Linked DNA regions of Homo sapiens: region 2 is linked to region 1. Evidence: fine-mapped expression QTL. A gene starts in region 1. The other region holds a variant in brackets. All regions are shown on one strand. Distances are from middle to middle. Region 1 holds the start of MST1 (macrophage stimulating 1). Region 2 overlaps IP6K1 (inositol hexakisphosphate kinase 1).

Region 1 (2,739 bases):
ACACCTGACCTCAGTCCTGCCATGGCAGGAAGGCTTGGGAGCAGGTGAGGCCAGGGGCATGCACACTAACACATAGGGCAGGGGAATGCAGGGGCTCCCAGCTTCCTACACAGGGAGGGTAGCCAGGGTCTAGGCCCATGTAACAGGGACCACTTCTTGTTCTCCAGTGTCCCTGTGCCCAGCACAGGGCTGGGCAGAGAGCAGGTACTAGATATATTTTTGCCGAACCATAACAAAATGTCTCAGCTCTGTGGAAATCAGACCAAAATGTCCAAAGTGAGGTGTCCTAGGGGCAGAGCCCCTGTATCCATCTCAGTTGTAAGCCATACTGAGTCCAGCTCACAACCAGAAGCGACAATCCTACACATTCCCCCAAGTGCAGACCACCACTGGTCTGGTCATCTCTAGCCATAAGTCCCACTTACTCCCCACAAGGCTGGAGCCTCTTTCCTCAGCCCTGGGTTCCTCCCTTCTTTTATCCATGGTCCTGATAGTTTCACCATTCCCACTCACACATGTGGCCTCCCACCTCATCCAAGCACCACCCTTGCCCAGCCCTCATGGCAAACTCCATTGGTCCTCCTAGTGCATCTATCCCTCACATCATGTTGCTGCTGCAGCTGCTCCAGAACCTGCACTGAGTCCCTGGTGCTGGCCTCACTGATGTGTAGCGGTGCTGTCCAACACAGCAGCCGTCATCCACATGAGGTTACTTAAATTTAAAGTTTTAAAAATTAACAATTCGATTTCTCAGTTGCCTTAGCCACATTTCAAGAGTTCAATGACCACATGTGGCTAATGGTTACTCTGTTGGACAGCACAAAGGTAGAACGTTCCCACCATCATATAAAGTTCTATTAGACAGCGCAGGTCTAGAGTTTCGCTCTGCAGCACTGCCTTAGCCAGCACTCCCTACTCTGCAGTTCAGTCTCTTATCTCACCCCAAACAGACCCTCTACTCCCGCCACAAACCCTTGTGGGTCTGCACCACGCCTGCTCCTCGGGAAGGTGATTTTCCCGACCTCGGGCCCTCGGTGGGCGTCCATGATCGGTGCCCCTTCACTACCAGAGTAGTTGAAGATCTGATTAAACTCAGTCATTCATTTGATGAGCAGACCTTCCAGACACCCGGAGTGGGCTCCGGGAGTCAGTTGCTGAGGACCCAGGTGAGAGGCGGACCTTGTCCCCGCCCGGGGACTCCCTGTCACGGCTATCCCGTCCAACCCCGCCGGGGTATCCGGACTCAGAACTGAACCTACTCCGTCTGGGAGCCCAAGGACGGCGAGGGCGGCGCATGGCTCCCCCAAGTCGCCCCCGCCTGGCCCCAAGCTCCACAGGACCTGCCAGACCAGCTTCCGCTCGGAGTTTCGCACCCAGATCCCTGCGCTGCAGGTGCCCTCGCACTGGACTAGCCCGGACCGCGAAGGGAATAGCCGGAACCCGCCAGGCTCAGAGCCCTGCCGCCCCTCACTCACCCGGAGCCTCGGCCGCAGCGACCCGGCTCACAACATCCGCCCAACCTCTTGGCTACGGCGTCCGTTCAGGGCCAAATCACGCGCACGCTTGCGCGCTGAGCCTCCAGCCGCGCACGCGCACTGGCCCGCGCCCAGCCTCCGCTAGGGGACCCCCTCCATGGCTTCCCACCGGGTTGTTCCAGGCCTCAGCTTCGCCGAAAGGCCTCACCACCTCCGACCTCCGCCTGCTCTGGGGATGCTCCCAGCCCTGCTGCGGCAGAACGCGACATGCTAACCGGAATCCCTAGGCCGCCTGTCTCCTACCCATACTTAGAGGCCCCGCTCAGACGGTCCTTAAAACGTCTGAAAGGCCGTTCCTGCCAGAGTCCCTGCTACCTGTTACCTCCACCCCTATTTAGTCCTAGTGGACAGCCTCGCTCACCTTCCCTGGGATGACACTTCTGGCGGCTGAGATGAGCGAGCCTCTCTGGGCTCTGCCGCCGGGTGTGGGCTGACCTGCCTACAGCTGGGGCCTGATAAGGCAGCAGCAAAAGGGTGGAGGGGAGGCAGTGTTGAAGCTGGGGCAAGTAATTTTCCCCAATTTACAGGGAAAAACCGAAATTCAGAAAAGTTTAATGTCACCCAGGGGCTGGAGCCCAGACCTCTGGCAGCTCTCACTTTCACAATGCCCTTGGGCTGACTAGGCTGCAGAGGGGTTTCACCCCAACCCCAGGGCACCTCAAGTGTCCCCACCAAACCTTCCTAACACCTGTCCACTAAGCTGTACTAGGCCCTTGCAACTGACCTATGGGACCTGAGGCCTGGCCCCTCATGGCTCCTGTCACCAGGTCTCAGGTCAGGGTCCAGCAGGCCCTGAGCTGACGTGTGGAGCCAGAGCCACCCAATCCCGTAGGGACAGGTTTCACAACTTCCCGGATGGGGCTGTGGTGGGTCACAGTGCAGCCTCCAGCCAGAAGGATGGGGTGGCTCCCACTCCTGCTGCTTCTGACTCAATGCTTAGGGGTCCCTGGTAAGTGCCCCCAACCCTGATCCCCATCTGCCTTCAGGAGGGGGTTGGCCCCATTCTCCTATTCTAGGATGAGAAAAAAGTCGGGGAGCCAGAGGCTCAGTGGGCATGGGGCAGTGACCTTGCCCTCTTGAGCACAGCTGGGAAGCCCTAGGAACACATAGACATTGCCCACTTAGGCCTCTATTAGCACGTCTGCTCTAGCACTGAAGCAGTGTCAGGACCACACAGATGCACGCACACAGCAGGCAGTGACCC
Region 2 (3,012 bases), 94 kb before region 1:
ATCCTCAGTAGAGTGTGCAGGTCTAGGAAGAGTTCTCATTGCTCCAAAACACATTTCTCTTGACCTGTGGCCTCTTTGGTTCTTTGTACAGTCTTCTTGTATGTGGTCATAGAATATGCCTGCATGAGATGACTAAGAAGTCAAGCGACAATACTTTGTGCACTTTTTGTTTTGTTTTGTTTTGTTTTGTTTTTTTGAGATGGAGTCTTGCTCCGTTGCCAGGCTGGAGTACAGTGGTGCCATCTCGGCTCACTGCAACCTCTGACTCCCTGGTTCAAGCAATTTTCCTGCCTCAGCCTCCCGAGTAGCTGGGACTACAGGCACGTGCCACCACACCTGGCTAATTTTTGTATTTTTAGTAGAGACGGGGTTTCACTATGTTGGCCAGACTGGTCTCGAACTCCTGACCTCATGATCAACCCGCCTCCGCCTCCCAAATTGTTGGGATTACAGGCATGAGCCACCGCGCCAAGCCTACTTTTTTTTTTTTTTTCTGAGACGAAGTCTCGTTCTCTCACCCAGGCTGGAGTGCAATGGCACAATCTCAGCTGACTGCAACCTCTGCCTCCTGGGTTCAAGCAAGTCTCCTGCCCCAGCCTCCCAAGTAGCTGGGATTACAGGTGCGTGCCACCATGCCCGGCTAATTTCTGTATTTTTAGTAGAGACCTGGTTTCACCATGTTGTTCAGGCTGATCTCGAACTCCTGACCTCCTGATCCGCCTGCCTTGGCCTCCCAAAGTGCTGGGATTACAGGCGTGAGCCACTGTGCCTGGTCACGCGCCTAGCCTACTTTGTGCACTTCTATCAGGATCTTGTCACCTCTGAATGTATAATTTTGAAAGAGGCCAGGTGCGGTAGCTCATGTCTGTAATCCCAGCACTTTGGGAGGCTGAGGCGGGCGGATCACCTGAGGTCAGTAGTTAAGAGATTAGCCTATCCAAAATGGCAAAATCCCATGTCTACTAAAAATACAAAAATTAGCTGGGCGTGGTGGTGCATGGAGGCTGAGGCAGGAGAATCACCTGAACCCGGAAAGCGGAGGTTGCAGTGAGCTGAGATCGCGCCACTGCACTCCAGCCTGGGTGACAGAGTGAGACTCAGTCTCCAAAAATAAATAAATAAATAAATAATAAATAAAATAATAATTTTGAAAGAAACCAGCTCCTTGGTCAGGAGATCCTTTAGGAAAGCAGGTGCTGAACCCAGAGGA[C/T]GCTGGCAGCTTGTTGCTGTTCGACTGAGTTTATACTGCACTTGTGAGGCAAGGGAGAAGTTGAGTAGTCTTTAGTTATTTATTTCATTGTCCTTCAGGGCCATTTTTTGAATCTTTAGTTCATTATAATCTTGGTAAGACCAGTTCCTTGGGCAGTTCTTGAAAGGAGGGGGATATTAAAATATTAGCTTTTCTTTCTTTCTTTTTTTTTTTTTTTGAGACGGAATCTCGCTCGGTTGCGCTGGCTGGAGTGCAGTGGCATGGTCTTGGCTTACTGCAAGCTCCACCTCCTGGGTTCACGCCATTCTCCTGCCTCAGCTTCCCAAATAGCTGGGACTATAGGCACCTGCCACCATGCCCGGCCAATTTTTTTGTATTTTTAGGAGAGACGGGGTTTCACCGTGTTAGCCAGGATGGTCTCGATCTCCTGACCTCATGATCCGTCTACCTCGGCCTCCCAAAGTGCTGGGATTACAGGCGAGAGCTACTGCACCCAGCAAAAATATTAGCTTTTCAAAATTGTCCCAAGCCCCTGCTTTTTTTTTTTTTCTGAGACAGGGTTTCACCATGTTGGCCAGGCTGGTCACTCCTGACAGGTGATCCACCTGCCTCAGCCTTGGCCTGGGATTACAGGGGTGAGACACCACACTGGCTGTCATTTGCATTTTTAAAAATTACTTATGTAGAGATGGGGTCTCAGTTGCCCAGACTGGGCTTGAACTCCTAGTCTCAAGTGATCCTCCTGTCTTGGCCTCCCAAAATGCTAGGATTACAGGCATGAGCCACCATGCCTGGCCTTTTTTTTTTTTTGAGACAGAGTCTCACTCTGTCGCCCAGGCTGGAATGCAGTGGCATGATCTTGTCTCACTGCAACTTCCGCCTCCTGGGTTCAAGTGATACTCCTGCCTCAGCCTCCCGAGTAGCTGGGACTACAGGAGTGCGCCAGCACGCCTGGCTAATTTTTTTTTTTTTTTTTTTTTTTAGTAGAGCCGGGGTTTTGCCATGTTGGCCAGGCTGGTCTCAAACTCCTGACCTCAAGTGATCCACCCACCTTGGCCTCCCAAAGTGCTGGGATTACAGGTGTGAGCCACCACACCTGGCCACGCCTGGCCTTTTTTAAGAGACAGTCTCTTAAAAACCTCCTAGGCTGGAGTGTAGTGACACAATTGTAGCTCACTGCAGCCTCCAACTCCTGGGCTCAAGTGATCTTCTTGCCTCAGCTTCCAAAGTAGCTAGGACTACACACATGCGCCACCATGCCTGGCTAATTTTCTTTGTCTTAATTTTTTTGTAGAGATGGGGGTCTCACTATGTTGCTCAGGCTAGTCTCAAACTCGTGGGTGCAAATGATCCTCCTGCCTCGGGTTCCTAAAGTGCAGGCATGAGCCACTGTGCCTGGCTTGTGATGGGCATTTTTAAGTGCAAATGTGTCAGACTGTTGTTATAATAGTAGACCCTCCAGGCCGGGCGCGGTGGCTCAAGCCTGTAATCCCAGCACTGTGGGAGGCCAAGGTGGGCGGGTCACGAGGTCAGGAGTTCCATACCAGCCTGACCAACATGGTGAAAAACCGTCTCTACTAAAAATACAAAGATTAGCCAGGTGTGGTGGCGTGCACCTGTAATCCCAGCTACTCAGGAGGCTGAGGCAGGAGAATCACTTGAACCTGGGAGGTGGAGGTTGCAGTGAGCCGAGATTGCGCCACTGCACTCCAGCCTGGGCGACAGAGCTAGACTCCGTCTCAAAAAAAAAAAGAAAAAGCAGACTTTCCATCCACTGTTCTTTATCTTTGCATAATTTATCT

Evidence for each region. PIP is the estimated chance that this variant, and not a neighbour inherited with it, causes the effect.
Region 2: its variant is fine-mapped to the expression of MST1 in whole blood (TOPMed, PIP above 0.99).

Annotation. Positions count from the first base shown.
Region 1 is chr3:49,688,343-49,691,081 of GRCh38, reverse strand. It overlaps MST1 (macrophage stimulating 1), which reads left to right and starts at 1,608. Exons shown (of 18, transcript NM_020998.4): 1 at 1,608-2,484. The coding sequence starts at 2,391. It overlaps RNF123 (ring finger protein 123), which reads right to left and starts at 1,525. Exons shown (of 39, transcript NM_022064.5): 1 at 1,476-1,525. RefSeq lists an enhancer at 1,695-2,254.
Region 2 is chr3:49,782,128-49,785,139 of GRCh38, reverse strand. The region is part of intron 1 of IP6K1 (inositol hexakisphosphate kinase 1); the gene reads left to right. Among named protein-coding and RNA genes, the nearest start is that of IP6K1, 2.9 kb to the left of the region's middle. The variant C/T (reference allele first, on the strand shown) is at 1,211.